Linked DNA regions of Homo sapiens. The protein of the gene in region 3 interacts with the protein of the main gene of each other region in a pairwise test. Each region holds a gene or a part of one and is shown on either strand. Other genes may lie near its edges.

Evidence for each region.
Region 1: the proteins of INSR (region 3) and STYX interact in a two-hybrid assay, tested with the Homo sapiens proteins (one study listed by BioGRID and IntAct).
Region 2: the proteins of INSR (region 3) and SH2B2 interact in a two-hybrid assay, tested with the Homo sapiens proteins (one study listed by BioGRID).
Region 4: the proteins of INSR (region 3) and DUSP18 interact in a two-hybrid assay, tested with the Homo sapiens proteins (one study listed by BioGRID and IntAct).

Annotation. Positions count from the first base shown.
Region 1 is NC_000014.9:52,747,125-52,754,407, reverse strand, and holds part of STYX (serine/threonine/tyrosine-interacting protein), read right to left. Parts: intron 3,726-7,283; coding exon 3,628-3,725; intron 1-3,627. UniProt on the Homo sapiens protein: Catalytically inactive phosphatase. Acts as a nuclear anchor for MAPK1/MAPK3 (ERK1/ERK2). Modulates cell-fate decisions and cell migration by spatiotemporal regulation of MAPK1/MAPK3 (ERK1/ERK2).
Region 2 is NC_000007.14:102,310,777-102,318,059, forward strand, and holds part of SH2B2 (SH2B adapter protein 2), read left to right. Parts: intron 1-3,559; coding exon 3,560-3,651; intron 3,652-3,735; coding exon 3,736-3,906; intron 3,907-6,410; coding exon 6,411-6,619; intron 6,620-7,283. UniProt on the Homo sapiens protein: Adapter protein for several members of the tyrosine kinase receptor family. Involved in multiple signaling pathways. May be involved in coupling from immunoreceptor to Ras signaling. Acts as a negative regulator of cytokine signaling in collaboration with CBL.
Region 3 is NC_000019.10:7,291,396-7,298,899, forward strand, and holds the start of INSR (insulin receptor isoform Long preproprotein), read right to left. Parts: upstream 3,020-7,504; 5' UTR 2,497-3,019; coding exon 2,397-2,496; intron 1-2,396. UniProt on the Homo sapiens protein: Receptor tyrosine kinase which mediates the pleiotropic actions of insulin.
Region 4 is NC_000022.11:30,664,650-30,672,927, reverse strand, and holds the start of DUSP18 (dual specificity protein phosphatase 18), read left to right. Parts: upstream 1-5,052; 5' UTR 5,053-5,466; intron 5,467-5,989; exon of another isoform or gene 5,990-6,121; intron 6,122-7,368; exon of another isoform or gene 7,369-7,370; coding exon of another isoform or gene 7,371-7,435; intron 7,436-7,806; exon of another isoform or gene 7,807-7,973; intron 7,974-8,278. UniProt on the Homo sapiens protein: Can dephosphorylate single and diphosphorylated synthetic MAPK peptides, with preference for the phosphotyrosine and diphosphorylated forms over phosphothreonine. In vitro, dephosphorylates p-nitrophenyl phosphate (pNPP).

The DNA.
Region 1 (7,283 bases), on a different chromosome or scaffold from region 3:
AACCCCATCTCTAGAAAAAAAAAAAAAAAATTAGCCCGATCCGGTGGTGCACCTGTAGTCCCAGCTACTTGGAAGGCTGAGGCAGGAAGATTGCTTGAGCCTGGGAGGTCAAGGCTACAATGAACAGAAATCATGCCAATGCAATCCAGGCTGGGCAGCAGAGAAAGATCCTATCTTTGAAAAAAAAAAAAGTATTTCTTTCATAATTATAAAAAATTCAGGCCGGGCGCAGTGGCTCACGCCTGTAATCCCAGCACTGTGGGAGGCCAAGGCAGGCGGATCACGAGGTCAGGAGTTTGAGACCAGCCTGACCAACATGGTGAAACCCCGTCTCTACTAAAAATACAAAAATTAGCCAGGCGTGGTGGCACATGCCTGTAATCTCTGCTACTCAGGAGGCTGAGGCAGAAGAATTGCCTGAACTTGGGAGGCAGAGGTTGCAGTGAGCCCTGCATTCTAGCCTGGATGACAGAGCGAGACTCTGTCTCAAAAAAAAAAAAAAAAAAAAAAAAAAATCAGTGTTTTGGGATATTCCTTTTTAATAACTAGTTTTAATAAACTAAATATGGTGTAAAAAAAAAACACTACAAAAGTAAAGAGTCAGCCCTCCATATCCAAGAATTTCATACCTGTGGATTCAACCGACAACAATAAAAAACATTAACAAAAAATAAGGTAAAATACAACACTAAAAATAATAAAAATAAAATCCAATACTATTCACACAGCACTTACACTGTACTAAGTATTAGAAGTAATCTAGAGATGATTTAATGTATATGAGAGAATGTGCACAGGTTATATGCAAATATTACACCAGTTTATATAAGGGACTTGAGCATCTGAGGATTTTGTTATTCATGGGGGTTCCTGGAGGCAATCCCCCATGGATATCAAGGGTACCATGAAAAATATGTCCCTCGGCTGAGCGTAGTGGCTTACGCCTGTAAATCCCAGTGCTTTGGGAGGCCGAGGTGGGCAGATCACGAGGTCAGGAGTTCGAGACCAGCCTGGCCAACATGGTGAAACCCCGTCTGTACTAAAAATACAAAAATTAGGCCAGGTGCGGTGGCTCACACCTGTAATCCCAGTGCTTTGGGAGGCTGAGGCAGGTGGATCAAGAGGTCAGGAGTTCAAGATCAGCCTGGCCAAGATGCTGAAACCCCGTCTCTACTAAAAATACAAAAAAAATTATCTGGGAGTGGTGGTGGGCACCTGTAATCTCAGCTACTTAGAAGGCTGACGCAGAGAATTGCTTAAACCTGGGAGGCGGAGGATGCAGTGAGCCGAGATCATGCCACTGCACTCCAGCCTGGGCAACAGAGCGAAACTCTGTCCAAAAAAAAAAAAAAAAAAAAAATTAGCTGGGTGTGGTGGCACATGCCTGTAATCCCAGCTACTCAGGAGGCTGAGGCAGGAGAATCGCTTGAACCCAGGAGGCAGAGGTTGCAGTGAGCCAAGATCACACCACTGCACTCCAGCCTGGGTGACAGAGTGAGACTCCATCTCAAAAAAAAAAAAAAAACAACAACAACAAAAAAAAACAAAATTAAAAACGAAAGAAAAATACGTCCCTCTACCATCACAGGCCCTGAATTTTCCTTCTTAGAAGCAATCACTATGAAGTTTCTAGCCTCTTGGTCCAGAAATTTTCTATGCATATATTAAGAATAAATATATGGAATGTAGTATATATATATTTACTCAACACATTGCAAATATATACATTGTTCCACACCCTGCTTTATTCATGTAATGCATTATCTTGGAGATCATCCCAAATCCAAACACATACATATATTTCATTCTTTTTCATGGTTACATAGTATTCTATTATATGTTCACACAATGTATTTTAGAGTATGTATCTTGTATTTACAGATATTTATAGATTGGTTTCATTGTAAAAATAAAGCAGAGCATTAAATTTTTTTTTTTATTTTTGAGACAGAGTCTTGCTCTGTCGCCAGGCTGGAGTGCAGTGGGGCAATCTTGGCTCACTGAAACCTCTGCCTCCCAGGTTCAAGTGATTCTCCTGCCTCAGCCTCCTGAGTAGCTGGGACTACAGGCATGTGCCACCACGCCCAGATAATTTTTGTATTTTTAGTAGAGACGGGGTCTCACTGTGTTGGCCAGGACAGTCTCAATCTCGACCTCGTGATCCACCCTCCTCAGCCTCCCAAAGTACTGGGATTATAGGTGTAAGCCACAGCGCTGTTTTTTTTTTGTTTTGTTTTGTTTTGTTTTTGAGACGGTGTCTTGCTCTGTTGCCCAGGCTGGAGTGCAGTGGTGTGATCTCGGCTCACTGTAACCTCTGCCTTCTGGGTTCAAGCAATTCTCCTGCCTCAGTCTCCTGAGCTGCTGGGATTACAGGCATGTGCCACCACGCTCAGGTAATTTTTGTTTTAGTAGAGATGGGGTTTTGCCATGTTGGCCAGGCTGGTCTCGAACTCCTGACCTCAGGTGATCTGCCCACCTCGGCCTCCCAAAATGCTGGGATTACAGGCGTGAGCCACCGTGCTGGCCTAAAATATTTTTAACATATATACTTTTACATAGATATTGAAGGAAGAAGCTGCCTCCCAGGATAGGAGCAAGGTGGCTTGGGTTAAGAGAAAAAGTAGAGTTACTTTCATTATATATGTTTACATATCCTTTCACTTTTGTACCATGCGTAATATACTCTATTTTAAAAATGAAGTTAAAATAAAGAACATTAAAAACCATTACATGCTCAACTGAACTTACAAGATAAATAAGAACATCAAATGAGATACCATTTTTACTCCATTAGACTTTGAGAAATTAAAAATGTTTCACAATTCCGTCTTGGAGAGATACTAAGGGAAGAGTCACTCTCACATACTTGATAATGGGAATGTACACTGATACAACGCACTGGAAAACAATCTGCAACATCTATCAAAATTTAAAATGTTCATACTCTTATATCCAGCAATTCTGCAAATAAGCCCTATCAATATGCTCACATATAAATTGAGTAATATGTACAATGATAGTCACTATATGCTATACATATTAGTACAAGGCCAGAAACAATCTAAATATCTAACAGACTAATTGAATAAATTTTAGTATAGCCATACAATGGATTACAATGCAACTTAAAAAGAATAAGCAGTTTGATATACATACCGATATAAACCAATCTCCAAAAAATATAAAGTAAAAAAGAAAGCCAATGTAAAAAAAAATTTATCTATAAGACTATGCTCATAAATTTAACCTAACACTCAAAAACTACCCAATAAAGAGGTAACAGTAGATGCTGTTTCCCTAAACCTATCCCCTAGATACTCAATTCCTTTATCCCTCAAGAGATAAAATAATGTACACTAAAACCTATTTTTCAGTATACATTATTTTTAAATTCTTTTTTATTTTTACTTTCCCAGAAACTTCTTGACAATATACACTCTTTTGAACCTTTAGAATTCTGCATTATGGGCATAATTTATTTAAGTATTTTAAGTAAAATTTATTTTAAAAAACTATGTACTATATGACCCATTTTTACAAACTAGATATGTACAGAAACAACTGATGGTACAAAACCTGAAATGAAACTTCATTAAGTGTTTTACAAATCATAGCAATAATTCTTACCTAAATAACTGCTGAAAGTTTGGTTTAATAAAGTTTGCTTCAATATTTTGTCGTATGCATATTATATGGGTTATTCCATGTTTCTGTAGTACAGGTAGCTGTATAAAAAAAAAAGCAGGGGGAGGACAGGGAAGATAAATATTTTAAAATATCAAACATCATCTTACTATATAACACAGATGTTTGAAAATACACAGAACCCACATCTCTGCTTAAGTCCAGGGAATTAAAGCTAATTTTATAATATACCTGAAGTGGGCAGCAAGATATTTCAATGATTCAAGATTAATACATTAATGTCCTCAAAAGGTTAACAGGGATATTTCATACCTACAATTTTAGAGCTTGATGGAACCTTTATGTAAGATGTTTGGCATAGCACCTGGGACACACAGCAAGTGTTTAATAAATGGTAGTTAATATATATTGACTGCAATCTTTATTGTTTAGAGAGAACCACTAAGACATAAAACAGTTACATTACCAAATACTTGGACATCACCGACCTAGTTAACAGCAGTACTGGAACCCAAATCTCTAGACAACTCCTTGCCTCTCCCAGTATACTTTAAGAGTCAGAATTAATTTACATACTTCACAGAATCTAATTAACCTTTTACCATTTAAAAATTTTCCTGAAGTTAAAAATGGCAACTTCAATGACATCTTATTATATTCAATACAGGTTGAGTATCCCTTATCTAAAATGCTGGTCCCAAGGTAGGACCAGAAGTGTTTCAGATTTCAGATTTTGAAATATTTGCATATACATACTCAGATGTCTTGGGGATGGTATCCAAGTTTAAACACAAAATTCATTTATGTTTCACACACACCATATATACTCTGAACGTAATTTCATACAGTCATTTGGTGCATGAAACAAAATTTTGACAGTGACCCATTACATGGGGTCAGGTGTGGAATTCACTTGTGCTGTCATGCTGACACTCAAAAAGTTTCACTTTGGAGCATTTCAGATTTTTCAGATTAGGGATACTCAACCTGTAGTGCTTTTGGCTCCATACTTAAAGCAATTTAACATGACAATTCTAGAAATTACCAGATAATAAGTTTTCATTTGCTAGTGATAAGTTTAAGTGAGTTTATAGATGTTATTTTATTACCTAGAGCATTAAGTTCCATGACAGAAAAGATTTTTATTTGTTCACTGATACATAGTATGTGTAAAATGTATAATACAATTCACTTAAGTATCAAGTATGTATAACTAGTTAAGTTGTTCAATAATTACCTGTTCAATAAATGAACTAACAAGTCACGATGGCATGAGAATCAGATAACCTTGAATTTCTTGACACATTGTTTTAAATCCTATATATTTAATTCCCATTTTCTGCATTTTAAATAGTACAAAACAGTAGCACTAATAATTCATGAGCAAAGTAAAAAAAAATAATTTATATGTGTTATGAACTAAATGTTTGCATCACCTCAAATTCTTATGTTGAAATCCTTACCCCCAAGATGTGATGGTGGAGTCTCTGGAAGATAATCAGTTTTAGATTGAGGTCATGAGGGTAGAAACCTCCATGACAGGATTGTACCCTTGTAAGAAGAGGCAAGAACTCGTTCTCTTGGCCGTGTGAGGATACAGCAAGAAGGGAGGGATCTGCGAGCCAGCAAGAGGGTCCTCACCAGAGCCGGACCATGACTGTGGACTTGCCAGCCTCCAGAACTCAAATAATCGTCTGTTGTTTAAGCCACCCTGTCTATGGTATTTTGTTTGAGCAGCCTGGGCTAAGACAATATAATTTGCAAGTTTTAAGTGTTAATTTCTGCAGCAAGTTTTATGTCAGCATAGATTAGAATTCAATTATCTTTGTATTTCTTGAGTATAACTTGAGTTAGGGAAAGTGAGATAAGCATTTGGTAAGATTAATAATTAACCAATGTTCTATATTGAGATTTGTGCCAATTTCCACAACAAATTCAACATTAAGTCCTTCGTTTACACTTGATGCCTATGGAGTTTTCCTATCTACTTTATGAATGTGAGAAAGCACAAGACGATGCACATAATTATGTATAAATATGCTTAAACAAGTTTTGAAGGCCCAATAGACTACTACTAAATAAAAATAAACTATCAAAATAGAGCCCTAACGTAACAGCGAATAGATTTTGTACTTTTCAGAGGCAGATCTGCAATTACTTTTGCACCAACCTAATATGAAGCAAATTATGACCTTACCTCACATTTAAAAACAGTAGAAAAACTTTACAAAAACAAACCGTTTACTAATTACAAAGGCCCTAAATTTGTCCCTTTTATTTAAACTGTATTTGAATTTAATAAAAAGATATACTTAAGTAAATGTGGCCAGCATAGCCAGACTCCATCTCTACAAAAACTTTGAGAATTAAGCCAGGCATGGTGGTGTGTGCCCGTAGTCCTGGCTACTTGGGAGACTAAGGTGGGAAGACAGCTTGAGCCCAGGAGTTTGAGGTTACAGTGAGCTATGAGAGCGCGCCACTGTACTCCAGCCTGGGTAACAGAGCAAGACCCCACTCCTCTCCCACAAAATAATAACAGTAAATGAGTGTTTAAAAAGGAGTTTATCCATTTAGGTTTATCTCCATTATTATTTTTTGTTGTTGTTTTTAGATAATGGTATGAAAAGAAATATGGGCTATATTATGGTTACCTAGGGTGGGAAATAAACTGCCACAGAGGCTTTTCCTGTCTAATAAGACCATGGTGACATTTCAAGAAAAGAAGTTTTGAAGAACTAGACCTTTTTTTGTGCGTGTTTTTGTTTCATTTTGAGACAAAGTCTCACTCCGTCAACCAGGCTGGAGTACAGTGGTGCCATGTTGGCTCACTGCAACTTCTACCTCCCAGATTCAAGCAATTCTCGCGCCTCAGCCTCGCGAGTAGCTGGGATTACAGGTGTGTACCACCATAACCAGCTAATTTTTGTATTTTTAGTAGAGACGGGGTTTTGCCATGTTGGCCAGGCTGGTCTCGAACTCCTGGCCTCATGTAATCCGCCTGCCTCAGCCTCCCATTGAGGAGATAGACCTTTAAACAAATACTTTAATTTAATGTGATAAATACTGTATGTATATTTATAAAGTACAGTGGGAATTTCAAAAATGTAAATTATCTAAAACCATCTGGAAGACTAGTACTTGGTGAATAGCAAATTATATGGACAATAACCTTGTTTACATCTGTCTTTTACAAAATAAATTACGGCTATGTCTATAGTTACCTGCCCTATCCTTTCCCTAGTACTTATTTTTACTAACTCCCTATCTTTCCAACTAAGCAAAAATCATCAAGATGACCAGGTTTACTCTTAGCCATGTCTCAACTGTCAAAAAAATCTTCCAGTTTCAAAATCAATGACCTTTTAAAACCGGTTAAATTCCTAAGAACATCAAATTAAATTATGGATATATCAAACACAATTTAAGTATACTGACTTCTGAATAGGCAAAGTATTGGGGAAAGACATCTATGATATGTTCCACGTTGTAACTCAAAGAGAATTAGTAGCATTGAATCTTTTAGAAGTGGCAAGAACATTGCTATATTTATTAAAATGAGATCTACCTATTTTAACTGCAACTGAGTAAGTCCATTAAAGTTTGACTATGTAGAATATCTATACGGATTGAATATCCCT
Region 2 (7,283 bases), on a different chromosome or scaffold from region 3:
TTCCCCAGCCGCTGTGAAGGTGAACCTCACTTAGTGGAATTTTCGAGCTGGCAGGGTCCCAGACACCTCATGTCACAAATCGGGAGAGAAACCTTCCCACCCTCTGAGGGTCTGCACGGGATCCCAGGAGGAGCCCAGCCCCTCAAGGATAGTGGGCAGGGATCATGGGCCCTCAGTGGGGACTGTCCACTCAGTGGTATCCGGGCCAAGAGAGAGCCTTCCCCTGGGCTTTCTGAAGTTTCAGTGGAAAATCAATTTGCAAATGGCAGATAAATGAGAGAAAAGGCATACAAATTTATTTATTTATTTTTATTTTATTATTTTATTTTTTAGAGGTAAGGTCTTGCTCTGTCACCCAGGCTGGAGTACAGTGGTGCAATCAAGCTCACTGCAGCCTCGACCTCCTGGGCTCGACTGATCTGCCTGCCTCAGCCTCCCAAGTAACTGGGACTGTAGGCACATGCCACGATGACTGGCTTAATTTTTTTTTTTTTTTGAGATGGAGTCTCGCTCCATCATCCAGGCTGGAATGTAATGGCACAATCTCAGCTCACTGCAACCTCCACCTCGCAGGTTCAAGCAATTCTCCTGCCTCAGCCTCCCAAGTAGCTGAGATTATAGGCACCTGCCAACAAGCCCAGCTAATTTTTATATTTTTAGCAGAGACGGGGTTTCCCCATGGTGGTCAGGCTCGTCTCGAACTCTTGACCTCAGGTGATCTGACAACCTCATCATCCCAAAGTGCTGGGATTACAGGCGTGAGCCACTGCAACTGGCCTTTTTTTTTTTTTTTTTTTTTTTAGAGACGGGATCGGGATCGTGCTATGTTGTCCAGGCTGGTCTTGAATTCCTGGGTTCAAGAGACCCGCCTGCCTCGGCCTCCCAAAGCACTGGGATTACAGGCATGAGCCACAGTGCTTAGCTGCACAAGGCAGATTAATAGGAGAAAAAGCATGTAAATTTATTTAACGTGTATACATAGGAGCCTTCAGAATGAAGACTCAAAGATACAGGGGAGGGCTGGGCGTGGTGGTGCACGCCTGTAATCCCAGCACTTTGGGAGGCTGAGGCAGGCACATCACCTGAGGTCAGGAGTTCGAGACCAGCCTGGCCAACATGGGGAAACCCCATCTCTACTAAAAATGCAAAAATTAGCTGGAGGTGGAGGCGGGCCCGCTGTGATCCCAGCTACTCAGGAGGCTGAGACAGGAGAATTGCTTGAACCTGGGAGGCGGAGGTTGCAGTGAGCTGAGATTGCACCACTGAACTCCACTGGGTGACAGAGTGAGACTCAGTCTCAAAAAAAAAAAAAAAATCCCAGGCATGGTGGCTCATGCCTGTAATCCCAGTACTTTGGGAGGCCGAGGCAGGCGGATCACGAGGTCAGGAGTTTGAGACCAGCTTGGCCAACATGGTGAAACCTCATCTCTACTAAAAATACAAAAATTAGCTGGGCCTGGTGGTGGCATGCACCTGTAATCCCAGCTACTTGGGAGGCTGAGGCAGGAGAATCACTTGAACCTGGGAGGCAGAGGTTGCAGTGAGCCGAGATCACACCACTGCACTCCAGCCTGGGCAACAGAGGGAGACTCTGTCTCAAAAAAAGGATACAGGGAAATGGTCCATTTTTATGCTTAGGTTCAGCAAAGTATGGACAGCAGTGTAGAAAGAGGATTGGATACAAAGGGTAGGATCTAAAGGGAATAGACTGAGCAGGGGACCCAGCCAGGCCTGTCTGTCCAGATTCTTCTTGGCCTCTCTGAGTAGCATTCCTTCCTTCTGGGTGTGGGACAGAACCCTATCTTGAATGGGGGTCTTATGACCTACAGTCAAACCAGGCAGATTGGGTAATTTCTTTCTTTCTTTTTTTCTTTCTTTCTTGCTTTCCTTTCCTTCTTCCGTTTCTTTCTTTCCTTTTGTTTTTACTTTTTTTTTCTGCTCCGTTGCCCAAGCAGGAGGGCAGTGGGGCATGATCACAGCTCACTGCAGCCTCCAACTCCTGGACTCCATTGACCCTCCTGCCTCACCACCACGCCCAGCTAATTTTCTTTTATTAAGATGAGATTCTCAGGGCCGGGCGCGGTGGCTCATGCCTGTAATCCCAACACTTTGGAAGGCCAAGGTGGGCGGATCACCTGAGGTTGGGAGTTTGAGATCAGCCTGGCCAACATGGAGAAACCCCATCTCTACTAAAAATACAAAATCAGCCGGGCGTGGTGGTACATGCCTGTAATATCAGCTACTCGGGAGGCTGAGGCAGGAGAATTGCTTGAACCCCCGGGAGGCAGAGGTTGCAGTGAGCCAGGATTGCGTCATTGCACTCCAGCCTGGGCAACAAGAGCAAAACTCTGTCTAAAAAAAAAAAAAAAAAAAAAGACGTGTTCTTGCGGCCAGGTGCAGTGGCTCACGCCTGTAATCCCCACACTCTGGGAGGCCAAGGCGGGCAGATCACCAGTTTGAGACCAGCGTGGCCAACATGGTGAAACCCCATCTCTGCAAAAAATACAAAAAAAAAAAAAAAATTAGCTGGGCATGGTGGCGCATGCTTGTGATCCCAGCTACTCAGGAGGCTGAGGCAGGGGAATCACTTGAACCCGGGAGGCAGAAGTTGCGGTGAGCTGAGATCGTGCCACTGCACTCCAGCCTGGGTGACAGAGCAAGACTCCCATCTCAAAACAAACAAACAAACAAAAAAGATGGGGGTCTCGCTATGTTGCCCGAGCTGATCTCAAACTCCTGACCTCAAGTGATCCTCCCACCTCAGCCTCCCAGAATGCTAGGATTACAAACATGAGCCACTGTGCCTGGCTGGATAATTTCTTTATGACAAGTTTTTACATAGAATATTTTTAGGTTGGCCGGGCGCAGTGGCTCACGCCTGTAATCCCAGCATTTTTGGAGGACGAGGCAGGCAGATCACGAGGTCAGTTTGAGACCAGCCTGGCCAACACAGTGAAACCTCATCTCTACTAAAAATACAAAAAAATTAGCCGGGCATGGTGGCAGATGCCTGTAATCCCAGCTACTCAGGAGGCTGAGGCAGGAGAATCGCTTGAACCCAGGAGGCAGAGGCAAAGTGAGCCGAGATCGCGCCACTGCACTCCAGCCCTGGCAACAGAGTGAGACTCCGTCTCAAAAAAAAAAAAAGAATATTTTTAGGTTTTATGACTACGTTTTGGGAAAAGGGGTTCTGGTTTCTGTGACCCACCTTGGGAAAAAGGGACTTTTGTTTCTCTGGTGCCTCTGGGGAGAAGAGGACTGAGAGACAAGTAGGCAGGAGAAGGTCAGAGAAAAACTTTTTTGTTCGAGGCTGCTGCTGAGGACTTTGTTTTGCGGTATTGTTTTCTGAGCCCCAACAGTGGCCTGGTCAATCACACGGTGGCCACAGAGCCAGTGTAGGGTGGGACAGAGGGACATGGAGGCAGAGGGAGGTGACCAGAGCCAGGAGGCCTAGATGCTGGGCCATGGGACTGCCAGCCACTGCCTGGCCACATAAGTAGCCTGTGGTCCGAGTCCAAGTCCCACGGCAGGACATGGTTTCCATTTCTTGTCTCCACAGTGACAGTGAGGAAGACACCGAGCTCTCCTGTACCCGAGGAGGCTGTCTGGCCAGCCGCGTGGCCTCCTGCAGCTGTGAGCTCCTGACTGATGGTAGGTAGGGGGACAGGGTTGAAGGAGGGGCACACTCAGGGTGGACAGATAAAGATACGTGCATCTTACCTGCCACTTCCCCAGCAGTCGACCTGCCCCGCCCCCCAGAGACGACAGCCGTGGGTGCAGTGGTGACAGCCCCCCACAGCCGAGGTCGAGATGCCGTCAGAGAATCCCTGATCCACGTCCCGCTAGAGACCTTTCTGCAGACCCTGGAATCCCCGGGCGGCAGCGGCAGTGACAGCAATAACACAGGTGCCAGTGGGGACAGCCTGCTCTTCCCATCCCACCTCTCCTGGACCCCCACCCCCAGCCATGGCCACCCATGGGCTCCCTAAACCTTGCTAAGCCTCAGAAGCTGTGACATCTCATCCTCCTGGGTCCTTCACACGTCTCCGAAGTACTTCTGGCTTTTGTAGACTGGTCTAGGAACCTGGCCCCTCCCACTGGACCCAGTTTCAATAGAAAATGTTCACAGGGGCCGGGTGCGGTGGCTCACGCCTGTAATCCCAACACTTTGGGAAGCCAAGGCGGGCGGATCACCTGAGGTCAGGAGTTTGAGACCAGCCTGGCTAACATGGCAAAACCCCGTCACTACTAAAAATATAAAAATTAGCTGGGTGTGGTGGTGCACACATGTACTCACAGCTACTCGGGAGGCTGAGGCAGGAAAATCACTTGAACCCGGGAGGCGGAGGTTGCAGTGAGCCAAGATCACGCCACTGCACTCCAGCCTGGGCGACAGAGTGAGACTATGTCTCAAAAAAAAAAGAAAGAAAAGAAAATGCTCACAGGGGCTGGGTGCAGTGTCTCACACCTGTAATCCCAGCCAGTGTTTTTTGAGGCTGAGGATCACTTGAAGCCAGGAGTTTGAGACTAGCCTGGACAACATAGCAAGACGCTATCTGTACAAAATTTTTGAGACAAGAGTCTCACTTTGTTGCCCACGCTGGAGTGCAGTGGCGGATCACAACTCACTGCAACCTCCACCCCCAAGTCCAAGCAATTCTCACGTCTCAGCCTCCCGAGTAGCTGAGATTACTGGTGCCCGCCACCTCGCCTGGCTCATTTTTGTATTTTTGGTAGAGATGGGGTTTTGCCATGTTGGCCAGGCTGATCTTGAACTCCTGCCCTAAGTGCTGGAATTATAGGTGTGAGCCACCACGCCTGGCCACAAACATTTTTGTGCCTGTAGTCCCAGCTACTTGGGAGGCCGAGGTGGGAGGATCACTTGAGCCCAGGAGGTCAAGCCTACAGTGAACTGTGATCACACCATTGCACTCCAGCCTGAGCAACAGAGAGAGACCCTGTGAAAAGAAAAAAAAAAAAAAAAAAGAAAAGAAAAGAAGAAAGGAGGGAGGGAGGGAGGGAGGGAAGGAAGGAGCTCACAGAAAAGGGTCCATAGGGTTGGAATCAGGGATTGGGAACAGGCGACTGGATTTGTTCCTAAGTTTGCTGATGACTTACAGAGTAACTCCAGGATAGTCCTTCACAGCTCTGTGCCTCAGTTTACCTCATAGACTTCACCAGTGGGTTGGGTCAGCTCCCTGCCCAACTCTAAAATTATTCCAGCTGGGCACAGTGGCTCATACCTGTAATCTCAGCACTTCAAGCAGCCAAGGCAGGAGGATCGTTTGAGCCCAGGACTTCCAGACTAGTCTGGGCAACAAGACTCTGTCTCTACAAAAAATAAACAAAAATTAGCCAGGCATTGTGGCACAGGCTTATAGTCCTAGCTACCCAGGAGGCTGAGGTGGGAGGATTGCTTGAGCCCAGGAGGCCAAGGCTGCAGTGAGCTATGATTGTGCCACTAGACTTCAGCCTGGGTGACAGAGCAAGACCCTATCTCAAAAAATAAATAAATAAATAAAATTATTTGGCTGGGCGCAGTGGCTCACACCTGTAATCCCAGCACTTTGGGAGGCCAAGACGGGCGGATTGCCTGAGCTCAGGAGTTAAGACCGGCCTGAGCAACATGGTGAAACCCTGTCTCTACTAAAAATACAAAAATTAGCCTGGTATAGTGGTGCATGACTGTAATCCCAGATACTTGGGAGGCTGAGGCAGGAGAATCACTAGAACCTGCAAGACGGAGGTTGCAGTGAGTCGAGATCACGCCACTGCATTCCAGCCTGGGCAACAGAGCAAGACTCTGTCTCAAACAAAAAAATATTCAGGCCAGGTGCAGTGGCTCACACCTGTAATCCCAGCACTTTGGGAGGCCAAGGCAGGAGGATCACTTGAGCCTAGGAGTTTGAGACCAGCCTGGGGAACACAGCAAGACTCCATCTCTAAAAAATAAAAAATAAGGCTGGGCGCAATGGCTTACACCTATAATCGCAGCACTTTGGGAGGCCGAGGTGGGTGGATCATCTGAGGTCAGGAGTTTGAGACCAGCCTGACCAACACAGTGAAACCCCATCTCTACTAAAAATACAAAAATTAGTTGGGTGTGGTGGTGGGCGCCTGTAATCCCAGCTACTCGGGAGGCTGAGGCAGGAGAATCGCTTGAACCCGGAAGGCAGAGGTTACAGTCAGCCACCGGGATTGCAGCATTGCACTCCAGCCTGGGCGACAAGAGCGAAACTTCGTCTCAAAAAAAAAATAAAAACTAAAAACCAACCAACTTTTTAAACATTATTCCAACAGCATTTTGCATGTAAAAAAACCAACAAGACGTCACCTCTCTTCTCACATTTATTTATTTGTCCCCCTTTCTCCTTCCCCCCATGTTCCTCACACTGTCATCCCCACCTCAGGGGAACAGGGTGCAGAGACGGATCCCGAGGCTGAACCCGAGCTGGAGCTATCCGACTACCCATGGTTCCACGGGACACTGTCCCGGGTCAAGGCTGCTCAACTGGTTCTGGCAGGGGGGCCCCGGAACCACGGCCTCTTCGTGATCCGCCAAAGTGAGACTCGGCCTGGGGAGTACGTGCTGACCTTCAACTTCCAGGGCAAGGCCAAGGCAAGTGTGTGGGGGGCGCCATGGGGGTGCAGTGGCCAGCCCTGAGGGAGAGGGGTCATGGTGACCCCGGTCCTGAGGCTGTGCCCTGGAAGCAGCTGCAGGCGAACAGGTGTGGCATGACTTCCCACGGGCCCCACTCACCCCAGCCATGCTCCGTGAGCCACCTGCGTCCCTCCTACACATCACTGAGGGACTGCAGTCAGCCCTATTTCAGCCTCTGCATTCTCCAGAAGGGGAGGCCACCTACTGGCGGCTGAGCCCTCAGGAGGCTGGGCCCTTCTAATAACCCAAATTTGCAAATCCTTTCAGCTCCTGCGCGCGGGGGATCTCATAGCACTGGAGCTTCGGAGGGTCTCCACCCAGAGATCGCCCAGTGGGGGGTGGGAGCCAACCAAGGCCCTCAGAGCCCCACCTTCTGCCCCACCGACCTCAGACAGCCCCTCTTCCCTGCCCAGGTTAGGTCACCAACCCCTGAGGAACACACACGGGCAAACCCTAGAGACCCAGCAGGGGAGGAGGAGCTGGGCTGGGTGGGAGAGCTGTGCAGGGTCTAGGGGGTGGGGTTCAGCATTGGAGGGGACAGCCTGATCAGAGACCTGCAGGGGAGGGAGAATTGTGGAGGGGAAGACAGTCAGGAAGGCGATCCCAACAGCACCCAGCTGGA
Region 3 (7,504 bases):
CAAAGCGCATAGAACAGCACCTGCTGAGAGCTTGCTCTTCTAATTCTTAGGAAGGTATTATGCAGAGAATAAGGAACTCCTTAAGATGATAAAGGAGCCCAGTACACCCAGGAACTCCACCACTTGTGCCCCACTGCAGAACAAATATTTACTGAACACCTACTATGTGCCAGGCATCGTTCTGGGCTCTAGAAATGCAACGGTGAACAACAACAAACCATAAACCCCTGCCCATATGGAAGCCATAAATGTGCAAAGAAATGGTAAATCCATTTACTGACCCTGAAAGCCCAGGCACAGATCCACAATTAATTACCAAAGCTACAAGGAACAGAAGAACAGGGAACCACACACACGCACACATAGAATCTGGCATAGTTCGAAACCACTCATCTTGGATTTTCTTTTTATTTATTTATTTATTTTTGAGACAGAGTCTCGCTCTGTCGCCCAGTGGCACGATCTTGGCTCACTGCAAGCTCCGCCTCCCGGGTTTACGCCATTCTCCTGCCTCAGCCTCCGGAATAGCTGGGACTACAGGCGCCCGCCACCACGCCCGGCTAATTTTTTCTATTTTTCAGTAGAGACAGGGTTTTACCGTGTTAGCCAGGATGGTCGTGATCTCCTGAACTGGTGATCCACCCGCCTCGGCCTCCCAAAGTGCTGGGATTACAAGCGTGAGCCACCACGCCCCGCCTTTTTTTTTATTTTTTTGAGACAAAGTCTCGCTCTTTGGCCAGGCTGGAGTGCAGTGGTGCCATCTGAGCTCACAGCAACCTCCTCCTCCCGGGTTCAAGCAATTGTCCCGCCTCAGCCTCCCAAGTAGCTGGGACTACAGGCGAACGCCACCAAACCCAGGTAATTTTTGTATTTTGAGCAGAGAAGGGAGTTTCACCATGTTGGCCAGGATGGTCTCCATCTCCTGACCTCGTGATCCGCCCGCCTCAGCCTCCCAAAATGCTGAGATTACAGGCTTGAGCCACCGCAGCTGGCCAGATTTTCTTAACAAGAACTCCAACTAACCGCCACCCTTCATTGAGCACCTACTGTCTCCCAGGCACCTGGGGGCGGGGCTGGGGGGGGGTGGGCCCGGGGCTTTTAGACATTATGTGATTGACAGAGTCGACTCAGCAAACCCGGTTGGTCCACTCTAGCACCTGATTTTACATGCACCCGTTTCCCCATCAATACATTTAAGAGCTTCAATTCCTTCCCTCCCTGACCCCTTCCTCATCACGACTGATTTCCTTTTATGGAGAAATCTGAAACAGTAACCCAACAGATATTTTTAAAGCAGGGCCTCAGACCCCACAGTGGGAAACCCAGGCTATATTCCTTAAATGATTGCGCCATCTTCATCTTACAACCCCAAAGGTGCCTATTGTCAAGCCCAAGGAAGATGCTGCCCACACGTGGGAGAGGGGCCCATGGGGTCAGGGGGAACGAAAGGCTCACTCAAGGTCAAAGGCTCCTTCATGAAGCGCAGGGCTGAGGGGAGAGGAGGGGTCAAGGAGACAGCAGACAAGGGACAGTAGTCCAGATTCTTGGGCAGAACGGGACACACAGAGGCTCAAGTCCTGGCTCTGGCACTGACTTTAGGGCAAGGGAGTTATGCGTCCTACATGAGCCTCAGTTTACTCCTCTGTGAAATGGGTGCATAACTGTATCTGCCTCCGGGGGCCACTGTGACAGTCCAGAGAGATAAGATAGACTAGGCTGTGGCGTGCGGTGATACCAATTACAATAAATAGGGTAAAAAACCGCCACTACTTCTGCTACAATTGCTGCTGTTGCTAAGGCTTTAGAATTTGCCTCCGGACATCTGGAAACAGAACCCAAAAGGGTAAACATGGACCTAGAGTCCGGGGTGGCCACGGGCCTAGATCCAAGGTAGTTGGGTAGAGGGGGGCTCTGCAGTCCCTGACCCCAGGCAGCGTCACCCACCGGTGAGGCACTCAGGGCGCTTGGCTCTACCTACACCATATGCGCTCGGGGGACTTGGCTGTTCGGGGCTGTCCAGACCCAGTGACCCCACTTCCCGGCCGCGACCCAAAGATGACGCGTGTCGTGTCTCCGGAGCGACTTGGGCTCGGAGGGGCCGGGGCACGGGTCGGAGGCGCGCTCCAGAGAGGAGCCCGCGGCGGGGCGGGCACCGGGGCAAGGTTCCTCGGGCTCAGGTCGGGCACGCAGGGCGCGGAGGCGCGAGCCCGGGCGGGCAAAGGCCAAGGTCAGAGGCTTCCCGCTCCCCCTACGCGATGCAGGAGCTACCGTCCTGGCCACCGCCCCCCGCCCCTGGGGAGGGTTCTCAGTCCACAAGCGGGGGCTCGATTTTGGCTTGGGTGGGGTCCTCTCCCCATCGCGGCGCTCCCCGCCCACGCCCGCGCCCCCAGACTCACCCTCTCCGGGGTACAGGTGGCCCGCGGCGCCCAGTAGCAGCGCGGCCACCGCCACCAGCAGCGGCGCGGCCGCCGCCCCCCGCCGGCCCCCGGTGGCCATGGCTGCGGGAGCGCGGGGTCTCCTCGGATCAGAGCGCGCGGCGCTGGCCCGCGGGGGTCATGCTCCGAGGCGGCCACCCAAGAGGCGCTGGGGGCCGCGCGTCCTTCTCTTCCACGCCCGCGACCCGCGGGCCGCAGCCCCCCTGCCGGGGAGGGCCCAGAGGCAGCCCCGGGAAGGGCGCGCGCGGCTTCGCCAGCTACAAATACTGAGCGGAGGCCCTTGCGGTGGTGGCCCCGACCCCCCGGCCGCTGCGGCCCGGGCCCCGTCCCAGGATCTCGGGGCCCGGAGCTCCGCGCTGCGCCCGGGACTGTCTCTCGGCTCTCGGCCCCGCGCGCTCTGGGTCGCGATCTGCGGGCTCCGGGACAGAGGGACGCGCGGACCGACGGACTAGCTGACTGGCGGGCGGGCACCTGGGCTGGCGGGTGGCGGGCGGGCGGCGGGAGAGAGGGCTGCTCGGGCCCGTAAACAACGCGGCCCGTCAGCTGGGCCCCGTGCGGGCCGCGGGAAAAGGCGGCGCGGATCTGGCCTAGGAAGGGACTCTGCGCCCGGGAGAGGCCCAGGAGAGGGAGGGAAAGCTTGCAGGGGAGGGAGGTGCCGCCCGGCCCCGCCCCGCCCCGCCCGCCTCCCCGCCTCCCTGTGCCGGGCCCCGCGCGGGAGGCCCTGGGCGCGCCGGGACCGAGGGCGCGCCCCAGATCCGCGCGCCCTACAGCCCCGAGTCTCCTCCAGTTTCAGACCCCCGGAGGCGCCCCACAGGCCCGACGCAGCGGCACAGATCCTTTCTCTACCATTTTGCTATTTTGTTCATAGTGGGCTTTGGAGGATTCCTGTTGATTTTTTAAAAAATACTGCATTAAAATGTTTATTTTGGTGACTCGAGGTGGTTTTGGTTTCTTTCTTTTTTTTTTTTTTTCACTCCCTTAAATTTTGCACCCCAGGCGAGTAGTGTCTCACTCGCCTTTCCTCAGTCCGGGCCTGGCCAGCGACACTCGTCCCAGAGCGCGTGGGCGCCCCCAGATGTCCCGCCCGCGAGTGCGCCCCGGCCCAGGGGCGAGACCCAAGCCAGGCCCCTGGGGACAGCCACGTGCCCGCGTGCCCAGTGCGCTCCCTGTGTTCAAGTTGGAGAAATGACACCTGGAAAAATGTGCAGACGCTTCTGAAAGGGCAAAGACGACGCCAAAGAAGACGCCGGAGACCTCGAATAGGGCGCAGGTGGACATCTCTGATTTTCAGCAGACCAGCCTGTATGTGTCTGAAGTCTAGCAACGACATTCACCAACAAGGCGGGACAGCGGTTCCACCTACCTTACTGCAGGAGAGGAAGGGGCTTTCAGTATAGGAAAGCCAGAACTCAATGGGAGGAGGGTTCCTCCACCCCTCACTCCTGTGTGGTCTTGGACCAGGGACTTTTCTGTCTCTGGGCCAGTTTCACTTGTGTAATGGGTTTAATAATACCTGCATGCCAGTTCTGGGGAGGTACCCGGGAAAGAAAACTTAAGAAAGCGCCCAGCACAACCCTAGACCCAAGGCATTCATTCTTCTTTCATTCAATAAACAGTTTGCTAGGAGCTGGACCCACTGTTCATGCAACAGGCCAAACCTATTCCTGCCTCTGGGCCTTTGCCCCAGCATTTCCCTTGCCCGTAACACTCCAGGATGGCTTCATCTCTGAAGTGCCATCCCTAACCATATTTTTGCAAATCCTCCCCCCAGTTCCGTTTCCTTCTCTCTCTCTCTCTCTCTGTTTTTTTTTTTTTTTTTTTTTTTTTTTTTTTTTTTTTTTTTTTAGATGGAGTTTTTCTCTGTTGCCCAGGCTGGAGTGCAATGGCCAGATCTCAGTTCACTGCAACATCACCTGCCTGGGTTCAAGTGATTCTCCTGCCTCAACCTCCCAAGTAACTTGGATTACAGGCATGCGCCAGCACACCCAGCTAATTTTCTGTATTTTTAGTAGAGACAGGATTTCACCATGTTGGCCTGGCCGGTCTCAAACTCCTGACCTCAGGTGATCCACCGGCCTTGGCCTCCCAAAGTGCTGGGATTACAGGCCTGAGCCACTGCGCCTGGCCCCTTCTCTCTCATTTTCATAGCATGTTTACCCCACTACCTGCAATTGTTTGTTTTTTTTTTTTCTTTTCTTTCTTTTTTTTTCCTTTTGACAGAATCTTGCTGTCACCCAGGCAGGAATGCAGTGGTGCAATCCTAGCTTACTGCAGCCTTGAACTCCTGGCCTCAAGCAATCCTCCTGCCTTGGCCTCCCAAGGTGCTAGGATTACAGGCATGCGCCACCATGATTGGCCTTGAAATTCTTATTCGTTTTCTGTGTCTTCTCCCCTTCCCGTGAAGGCGGAAATCTTTTCGGTCTTGTTTCACTGCTTAAACCCAGTGCCTGACAAATCTGTTGCTTAATAAATATTTGTTGAGTGGGAGAATCAACAAGCAATAAGTAATAGGGGATTTTTCAGTGAGCAAAATAAACATGACCCATTTCCTTATGGAGTTCACAACTGAGCCAGGGAGAGAGCCCTTAAAATAATTGAGTGTGTAATGAGCTGAGGGAAATGGGAGGTGCATAGGGAGGGGTTTGCTGAGGACATGGGGTTTTTTGTTTGTTTGTTTTTTGATGGATCTTACTCTGTTGCCCAGGCTGGAGTGCAGTGGCACGATCTTGGCTCACTGCAACCTCCGCCTCCCAGGTTCAAGCAATTCTCCTGCCTCAGCCTCCAGAGTAGCTGGGATTACAGGTGCATGCCACCACGCCTGCCTAATTTTTGTATTTTTAGTAGAGGCAGGGTTTCACCATATTGGACAGGCTGGTCTTGAACTCCTGACCTCAAGAGATCTGCCTGTCTCGGTCTCCCTAATTGCTGGGATTACAGACGCGTGAGCCACTGCACCTGACTGAGGATGTGATTTTGAGCTTAAGTCTGAAAATGAAGAGGAGCCATCCTAGGGAAGCCATAGGGATGTGTTTCAGGTGGGGGAAGGCATGAGCAAAGGCCCAGAGGAGAGTGGGCAAGGCATTCTTGCAACTGAACCAGGCATTCACTGTAGCTGCAGAAAAGAAAGAGGAGAAAGTGAAGCCATGGGTGAGAACTGCAGTGGGCCCTTGAACATGAGTTTGAACCGTGCACATCTTTTTTTTTTTTTTTTTTGAGGCAGAGTCTCGCTCTGTCACCCTGGCTGGAGTGCAGTGGAGCAATCTCAGCTCACTGCAATCTCCACCTCCAGGGTTCAAGCTATTCTCCTGCCTCAGCTTCCCAAGTATCTGGGACTACAGGCACACGCCACCTCACCCGGTTAATTTTTGTATTTTTAGTACAGACGGGATTTTACCATGTTGGCCAGGCTGGTATCGAACTCCTGACCTCAGCTGATCTGATCAGCCTCCCAAAGTGAGGTCATCTTTAAACAGAATGTTTTTCAATAAATATATTGGAAACATTTTTAGAGATTTGCAATAGTTTGAAAAGACTTGCAGATGAACTTGGTAGCCAAGAAATATTAAAAAAAAATTAGGTATGTCATGAATGCATAAAATATATGTAGATACTAGTCTGTTTTATTATTTTTGTTATTATTTTCTTTTAGAGACAGGGTCTTGCTCTGTTGCCCAGGCTGGAGAGCAGTGGCCCAATCATGGCTCACTGTAACCTCCAACTCCTGGGTTCAAGCGATCTTCCTGGCAAGCACCAACACGCCCGGCTAATTTTTTTACTTTTTATAGAGACGAGGTCTCACCATGTTGCCCAGGCTGGTCTCTAACTCCTGAACTCAAGTGATCCTCCTGCCTCTACCTCCCACAGTGCCGAGATTACAGGTATAAGCCACCATGTCCAGCCCTATTTTATAATTTGCTAACATAAAATATACACAAATCTGTTACAAAAAGTTAAAATGTATTAAAACGTACACACACACTTACAAACCATACATGGTGTTATTCCAAGTCAAGAGAAATGTAAATAAATGTAAAGATGCAGCATTCAATCATAACTGCATAAAATTAACTATAGAATATATTGTGTTATTGTAACAATTTCATAGCCACCTCCTGTTGCTACTGGAGTGAGTGCAAGTGTTGCAAGTATCCGCTTTAAATGCCATGTTACATTAATTATCTCCCTGTGGGCAGTTCACCTCTCCAGGAATTTGTGCCCCGGTAAAAAGGGATCTCTTGGCGGTTCCCGCGTATTTTTCACTGTGTTTAGTGCAATACCGCAAACATTGAATAACATCCTGAGACCCATGTAAAGTGCCACTAGTGATGCTGGAAATGCTCCCGAGAAGCAGAGAAAAGTCAGGACAGGACAAGAAAAAGTTGAATTGCTTGCTACGTAACATAAATGGAGCTCTACAGCTGCGGTTGTCTGCTTCAGACAGACAATTCATCTTGTAAACAAATTTATGGCATTGATAAATATTGTAGCGTTCTGTAACTGTAAATGTATTTTCTCTTCCTTGTGATTTTCTTTTTCTTTTTCTTTTTTTCTTCTTTTTGGAGACAGGGTTTCACTCTGCTGCCCAGACTGGAGTGCAGTGGCACCATCAGGGCTCACTGCAGCCTCTACCTCCTGATCTCGGGTGATCCTCCTGCCTCAGCCTCCCAGGGAGCTGGGATTACAGCCACATGACACCATGCCCAGCTGTGATTTTTTAAATAACATTTTCTCTTCTCTAACTTGCTTTATTCTAAGACTGTAGTGTGTAGAGGCTGGGCACAGTGGTTCACTCCTGTAATCCCAGCACTTTGCAAGACAGAGGGAGGCGGATCACTTGAGGTCAGGAGTTCGAGACCAGCCTGGCCAACATTACAAAACCCCATATTTACTAAAAATACAAAAATTAGCCAGGCGTGGTGTGCTTGTAATTCCAGCTACTCTGGAGGGCTGAGGCATGAGAATTACTTGAACCTAACAGGCGGAGGTTGCAGTGAGCCAAGATCATGCCACTAGCGCACTCCAGCCTAGGTGATGCAGTAAGACTCTATCTCAAAATAATAATAATAATA
Region 4 (8,278 bases), on a different chromosome or scaffold from region 3:
ACGGGACGAGACGAGACACAATATAAAGACAATGAAGACAGAATGGAAGACATACCTGGTGGTAGTACAGCCCCTGGCTTCTCTCCCCTAAAACATTGGCGACTGTGCCCTATCCATCCTTGATTATGTAAACCCAACTTCTCTATTTTGCTTGAACTAGTTCAAGTTCAGTTTATATTACCTGCCACTGAGAGGATCTTAATAGATCCTATTTTTACAAATGAGAAAGCAGAGTCTGGAGGAAGTGTGATTCACCCAAGGTCACACAAAGCTGGCCTGCCCATCTAGTTCCACTACATCCCACCATTGGAAGTTTAGCAGAGGCAGAAATGCCCAGGTCTCTGCTCTGCTTTTGTCTTTGTGACCTTCAAGAGGATCTGGCACCATCTCTTAAGGATCTCCAACTGTTTTTGATGTTAGAATCCTGTGGGCCCATCCAGACTTGACCCTGGAACATGGAGAGAAGTCAACAGAGTCAAGAAGGGGCAGAAGCTCAACCCTGGGCTTCCTGCTCTGTTTGAAAAAATGAGTATGTTATTGGTGTCCATCTTTTTCATGTGTCTCTTCCTAGCACCCAACACAGTAGCTGTCCCAAGCAGGCCCTAAGGACAGGTTTAATGAGTTCATCAATTAGGGTCTATGGGAACAGTAGGTGACAGCACTCAGGCTTTTGAGTAAGCCTGAGTCAAACTCTTACCTGTCCATAAGCAAAAAGTGGGAGAAGAGCCTCAGTTCTCATCTGGAAAATGGGGATAATCCCCAAAGGAAAAAACTGACAAGATGCTGTTAATGCTGATTCAAACTCTAGGACCCAAGACCTTAGTTTTTTGGGGGTTTTATTTATTTATTTTTGCTTGTTTGTTTTTTTGTTTTTGTTTTTTTTTTTGAGACGGAGTCTTGCTCTGTTGCCCAGGCTGGAGTACTATCACAGCTCACTGCAACCTTCACCACCCGGTTCAAGCAATGCTCATGTCTCAGCCTCTCATGTAGCTGGTATTACAGGCACCCACCACCATGCCCAGATCAGTTTTGTATTTTTAGTAGAGACGGGGCTTCGCCACATTGACTAGGCTGATTTCAAACTCCTAACCTCAAGTGACCGTCCTGCCTCCCACAAAGTGCTGGGATTACAGGCATGAGCCACCGCGCCCAGCCTAGAACCCAAGACTTTGTATGGGAGAAAATAAGAATCCATTCATGGGTTCCCTAGAGAGATAATGTGCTTTCAGGAAAAACAAAAACAAAAACAAAACCAAGAGACATGGAGTCTTTCTAGCCTCCTTAGCCTAGGAACAGGTGTGACACCTTGGGCAAGTCAGTAACCCTGAGTGTGAATTGCCTCCTCTGTAAAACGGGGCCTGCCTTAGAGCACCTTGGGGACTTCCTATCACCTTTATGATCCCCCAGGATATAGAGAGAATGAAATGAATATGGGTCAAGCCACTAACACCCTCTAATGCAAAAGCTTGTGGCTACTTTACCTGCACCTCATGGAGTCGTTGTGCTATGAGCTTGTCATAAAAACCCACCCAAGATAAACTGCTCTTTTTATATGAGTAAAAAATTTTTCACTGCTGCTTCACTGGAATCATTAAGCTGGAGCGGGGAGGGAAAGGTGACACAGGTTACAGATGGCTGAGGCCAGGGCCAGAGCAGATTTGACAGGGTCCTGGGGGAGTGGCTGAGGCTTCCCCGGGTATCTTAGGACAAGTGCAGCTCTGTTACAATTTTCAGAGAAGCAAGGGAGTAACCACAGTTTCTTCTTGTGGAAAGATATGCTAAAGGGGTGTTTCATGGACACCCAGAAGAAAAGCAATTCTGTGTTTGTAAAAGGGCCCCAGTGCAGTCCACAAGAGAAGGGTTATCAGGAACTCAGAACCATCTTCCAAAGCAGTCTTTTGTTTTTTTGAGATGGAGTTTCATTCTGTCTCCCAGGCTGGAATGCAGTGGCACAATCTCGGCTCACTGCAACCTCCACCTCCCGGGTTCAAGCGATTCTCCTGCCTCAGCCTCCCGAGCAGCTAGGATTACAGGCATGCGCCACCACACCTGGCTAATTTTTGTATTTTTAGTAGAGACGGGGTTTCACCATGTTGGCCAGGCTAGTCTCGAACTCCTGACCTCAAGAGATATGCCTGCCTTGGGCTCCCAAAGTGGTAGGATTACATGCGTGAGAGCCACCATGCCCACCCAGCCAAAAGCAGTCATCTTGATGATCCTTCTTAAGGATGAAATGGGAGAGAGGGGTCTTAGAGGGGAGGAGTAAAAGTTGTAGAGTAGGGTTCGAAGGATGAATTTGAGAGGTGTTTAGCTTGGGGAGCACTTGCTCTAGACCCTGTGCCTAAAGGGGATCTGGGAGGCGGGGGCTTGGGGGAGTATAGATCAGAGCAGGGAGAAATAAAAGTAAGAGTTTGGACAGATGTTAGGCTGGTTAATAGGGGAATTCCAGAAGAAGGTTTGGGGAAAATTTAGAATAGGGAGGTGTGGGGTGGACAGGGGTTTTAGGAGACTCTGAAAGGTGAGGTGAAACATGGGGTGGGGTGGGGTAGAATGGAGCTAGGTACTCCAGGTGAAAATATAACAATCTGGTCAAAATGAGGAAATGCTGAAGAGTGGATATACTTCTAAGCACTGCATTTTCACTTTTTGATAATTTGGTTACACCATGAAGTAGTCTTACAAATAAATACCTTTAAATGGTTTTGCCCATTTAAAAATAATTCTTCAGGATCAGGCACAGTGGCTGAGGCCTATAATCCCAGCACTTTGGGAGGCCAAGGTGGGCAGATCACTTGAGGTCAGGAGTTCGAGACCAGCCTGGCCAACATGGTGAAACCCCATCTCTACTAAAAATACAAAAATTAGCCGGGTGTAGTGGTGAGCACCTGTAATCCCAGCTAATCAGGAGGCTAAGGCAGGAGAATCACTGGAACCCAGGAGGCAGAGGTTGCAGTGAGCCAAGACTGTGCCACTGCACTCGGGCCTGGGCCACAGAGCTAGACTCTGTCTCAAAAAAAAAATTGTTCATATTTTCTTTCTAAAATGCGGAAACAAAATCTACAGTATGGAAGCAATTGAATAAATTTTGGTATGTCATAAAATAAAATACATGTAATTGTGTATGAAACATAGACGGGTGGTATATTAGATGGGAGAAAAAAGCAGGTTACTAAAAAGTGAACTTTTGTGATGTATCTTTTTTAAGTATAAGCATGTTGTAACATATATATATATATATATATATATATATATGAATGGATTCTGATCAAAATACACCAAAATGTTAACAGTGATTGTCCCTAGCCACTTATGCTGCTGGCCTGTCTTGTCTTCTTTTTATTTCTTCGAGACGGGGTCTCACTCTGTCCCCCAGGTTGGAGAGTAGTGGCACAATCTCAGCTCACTGCAACCTCCACATCCCAGGCTCAAGTGATCCTCCCACCTCAGCCTCCTGAGTAACTGGGACCACAGGTGAGCCACCAAGCCCGGCTAATTTTTTGTATTTTTGGTAGAGATGGGGTTTCACCCTGTTGCCCAGGCTGGTCTCGAACTCCTGAGCTCAGGTGATCCAACTGCCTCAGCGTTTCAAAGTGAAGTGGTGGGAATACAAGCGTGAGCCACCATGCCTGTCCTCATTTTTCTATAAGTGTACACTACTTTTATAATTGGGTCAAAAAAGACAACTGTAGAAGGATAAAAAATATTGAAGGACTAGTTTTTCTAATGCATTTTCAGCCTATTTGGAACTGGAGTGTTGTGAATGTTTTCATATTTACAAACTAGTATGAACAATCCAACTTCTCAATCTCTCATTTACATTTTTCTGACCTCTATGCATAGCCTAGGTGTGAGGTGATGGAAAAAGCTGGTTTAGAGATCAAGATGCTCAAACACAAAAGTCCCCCAAATCCTGAGAGTTTTTTGTTTTTTTAAAAAAATCCTTAAAACATTTAAAGACGCATAAAACTCTTCACCCACTCAGTGGTGCAAAAAATTTACCAATACTAGAAGGGGAGGAGGCTGGCAACGACTGGAAATATTCCCTTTCAAGTAATAAATAATGGTTATTTTGAACCAAATTGCTTTCCACCTCAAGTCCTCCATGGATGGGAGCCTGGAGGATGCAGTGATGGGGGTTATGGAATGGAAAGGAGCGTGGGTAATTGGGTTTGTGAGGATTGGGGCCAGGCAGAGGGAACTGGGGGCTTTTCCAGGACCACTGGGGAACACAGAGGCTGAGAAGGGGAGTGTGGGATGGGTTCGAGCTGGGGAGGACCTCGGCCTCGCCAGGCTCTAAGGAGAGTCACAGCTCACCACCTAGGGCGCTGGGACCACACGATGTCATGCCTGGGAGACTGAAGGGCTAGGACAGATTCTGAGAAAATGTGGACTGGAGATGGGGATTCCAGGTTCTCCCGGGAGTCCAGGCGAGGGAGTTCCGGCTTCAGGGAGTCCCAAGAGCTAGACTGGGAAGGGGCTGGTGCCCAGGACTATGAGAAATCCAGACTCCCCTGGGGTGTGAAAAAGGGCCGAGGTCCGGCTGAGGGAGAGCGAGTCTGAAAGAGTTCGGGCTCCCTTGCGGGTCCGAGAGTCTAACGAAGGCTCTGGGCACCCAGGCCGCACCTGAAGAGCACCAACGACTGCTCGGTCCGCGGCGCGGGAAGGAGATGTGCGGCTGAACCCCTACGCCGATTACTTAGCGGCGGCCCTATCGAGAGGGTGGTTCGAGCCCGAGGTGGCGCCGGTCCCGTAAATCGTGGAGGATCTCAGGTCCCCTGTGACCAAGGGCGTAGTCAGCTGTGTCATGGCGGCTTCCCTGTTCGAGAAACAGTTGGAAACTGGAGGCCGGTTGGGAGTCATGGTCGTTGGGCGCACGGAGGCCGGTTGGAAGCCATGGTCGTTGGGCGCCAGGAGGCCGGTTGAGAGCCGTGCTCGTTGGACGCGCGCAGACCTGGAGTTAGTCCCTGGGCGGAACCTGGAGCCCCGCGCGGCGCGTTGCCTGGGAGACGCATAAGGGGGCGGGGCCGGGGAGGGAGTGTCGCACATGCGCACAGAGCCCGGGCGGCTACGGAAGCGGTGAGACTGTCTCTCGGCTGCAGCCCTGGTGCGACCCGGCCCGTTGCCGTAGAGATGGGCAGGGCTGGATGGAGTGGGGTGCGGTGAGCTGAGCTGACCCTGCTTCGCCACGGGGACTGCAGTGACCCCGGCTTGCCGGCAGGGCGGGTAACAGGTTGAGCCAGGGTGGGGCTGCTCAGGGGCGTGGAGCCGAGGCCAGGATTTCTCTGAAGACCCGGCACAGGCTATTCCTTTCTGCGACGAGCCCATTGCTATGGAAACCAAAGCGTTAGGCCAGCGGGGATTGAGGCTGCGGGATCATGACGGGTCTCTCTCCCGAAGAACCTTGCCTAAGGCTTCCCCAAGCGGCTACTTCCTGAGCGAACCCGCCCACCCGCCTGAAGGAGAGAGGTAAAACCCTGGGGGTCCTGACACTAAGCAGGCGAAGAAGCCTATTCCAATGCCAGCTCCCCTAGGAAACCTACCCGGCCCACCCCTAGAAGTGATGCTTCGCTCTCGTTAACTCTTGGACTTTGTTCCATGTTTATAACTTAGTATTTCACGAACGCCCCGCGGTGTTTGTTCATTTTTCCCACACATAATGGACCATAAAGGTCGGCTTCTTTGCTTTATGACTCGTTCTGAACAAGTCCTTTTCCGCGCTGTGTCTCACTTTCCTCTTTTGTAAAATGGAAATATTAACTCTAGACGCCGGTCTGATTAGGTTGCTTTGAAGATCGAACCAGATGAGGGAAGCCAAATACTTCATAGGCTGTAAAGTGGTGAAGCTGAACTGCTACCGAGTTGCTATTTTTTTCTCCTCCTCCCTCTCAAGCTAAACGTTCTTTAGATCTTTTGTGATTTCTTCAGGTGGTCTTTGCGACTCCCTAGGCTCCGACCTGGAAGAAATCTTTTTTACACTTCCCTTTCACAGAGCCCTGCATTTTAACTTCCCTATCAGAAGCGAGAAAAATAGTTATCATTTTGAGAGGGCTTACTCTATGCCAAGCCCTGAGAAAACTCTTTACGTGGATTATCTCGTTTAATTTCACAACATCCTTTTAAGGTAGGTACTGTTATCCTATTTTCAAGCTCTGTCTGCCTGTAATTGCCTGTTTACTATCTGTTTCTCCCACTAGTCTTTGAGCTCCCTGAGAAAAGGGGCCATGCCTGTCTTGTACATTTCAGTATCTCCAACACCTAATACAGTGCCTGATAGAGATTGCTTTTTTTTTTTTTTTTTTTTTTTTTGAGATGGAGTCTCACGCTGTCTCCCAGGCTGGAGTGCAGTGGCACGATCTTGGCTCACTGCAGCCTCCGCCTCCCGGGTTCAAGCAATTCTCCCGTCTCAGCCTCCTGAGTAGCTGGGACTACAGGCCCATGCCACCACGCCTGGCTAATTTTTGTATTTTTAGTAGAGACGGGGGTTTCACCATGTTGGTCAGGCTGGTCTTGAACTCCTGACCTCAGGTGATCTGCCCGCCTCGGCCTTCCAAAGTGCTGGGATTATAGGCTTAAGCCACCGTGCCCAGCCCTGATAGATATTTCTTAACTAGCATGAAAATGACTCCTCGCATCACTACCCTCACCTGCAAGAGCATTGTCACTTCTGCAGACTTTTAGTGGCTATAATGAACAGCACATTCCTCTATTCCCGTTACCCACTGGGCACTGGTTTGGGGGGACATCAGTTCACTTCTCTATGGATTTTCTGATGACGAGGATCCAGAACATTCCTTAGCATTTAGACTTCCATCTGGGTTCAGGAGGCTTTTTCTTTGCCCTTCATATCACCTCTGTAGCAAGCCAGCCCTCTCTGTCCTTCCGGGAATGAGCCTGATGCATTTGAGTCTGGGGCATTGGCAGGTAGGATTTGCCTATACAACCTTTGGTCTTTCTCTTTAGTAGCCTCAGAACCACCCCCATCCCCACCCAGCCCCTCCCTGGAATTCTGGAGACACGCTGCCAGAGAACTCATTCTTTCCAGAAAACCTCTCAGAAGGCAGAGTCATAGCTGTTGGGAGTCATTTCTTCATTCAACAAATATTTATCAAGCACCTACTTGTGGGGACACAGCGCTTGGCACTAGTTGGTGATAGAGTGGGAGTGAAGACAGACACCATCATATCCCTAAAGGGCTCACAGTCTCTTGGGGAGACAGACATTAATCAAATAATCAGACAGATCGGAGCAAAACTACGTCTTCAGTAAGTGTTAGGAAGGAGAGAACATAGGGCTAAGAAAGCCTGGAGCAGAGTTGGTCAAACGTGAGGGAGGGGTGTGATCTAAGGAGATTTCCCTTAAAACAGTTACCTTTAAGTTGATATCTTAAGGCTCCTCAGACTTCTGCAGTCCTCTGCTGAATGGACCAGATCAGGATCTGATGGGTTCATAAGGAAAGAGACTGAGAGATCAGCAGGGGCAAAGGCCACTGGCTGGAGAGGACAGGTTGTCCCTAAGGAACTGTAAGTGGCTCGGTTCACCTGAGGCCCTTCAGAGCATGGAGAAGCCTAATAAGAGGCTGGAGAGACAGGCAGGAGCCAGGTCACAAATGGCCTTGACAGCCAAACTAAGTGGCTCCATCTTATCCTCACAGTGGATAGCCACTGAAATATATTAAGCAGGGAAACAAAACTTTGGCTCCTCATTTCTCGTGCCTGGTGAAGACTGCCACTTGGCCTTGAAAGGTGTGATCTAAATCCAAATGTCCCTATTTCAGCGGAATGTATAAAGATGTCCTGGTTTTTGCAGCTTTGTTTAAGACTGAGAAAGTGAGGGTCCGAGAGTCTAATGAATGCTCTGGGCACCCAGGCCGCACCTGAGGAGCACCGACGACTGCACGGTCTGCGGCGCGGGAAGCAGATCTGCGGCTGAACCTCTACCCCAATTACTTAGCGGCGACTGAGCCTATCGAGCAGGTGAAGGGAAGGGGTCTGCCTCTCCCTGGGGTGTGTTTCACAGCTCTGCTGCAGGCAGCATGATGCAGGTGTGGCAGGTCTTCCTAAGGCCCTGCTGTCTCTGTGCTTGTCCCTGGGGTTGCTGTGGTGCCCATTATGCTGGCTTCCAGGAAGCTTTCAGCCACTCCCTTTCCCAGGCCTTCTTCAGAGGCAAGGTGCAGGAGCATGTCTAACAATTTAGGACTTTGTATTTGACATCAGCTTCGCATGGGCATATCCTGTCTCTTTAAAGAGATGGTTCTTAGAGGGGGAAAATGGGAACCCTC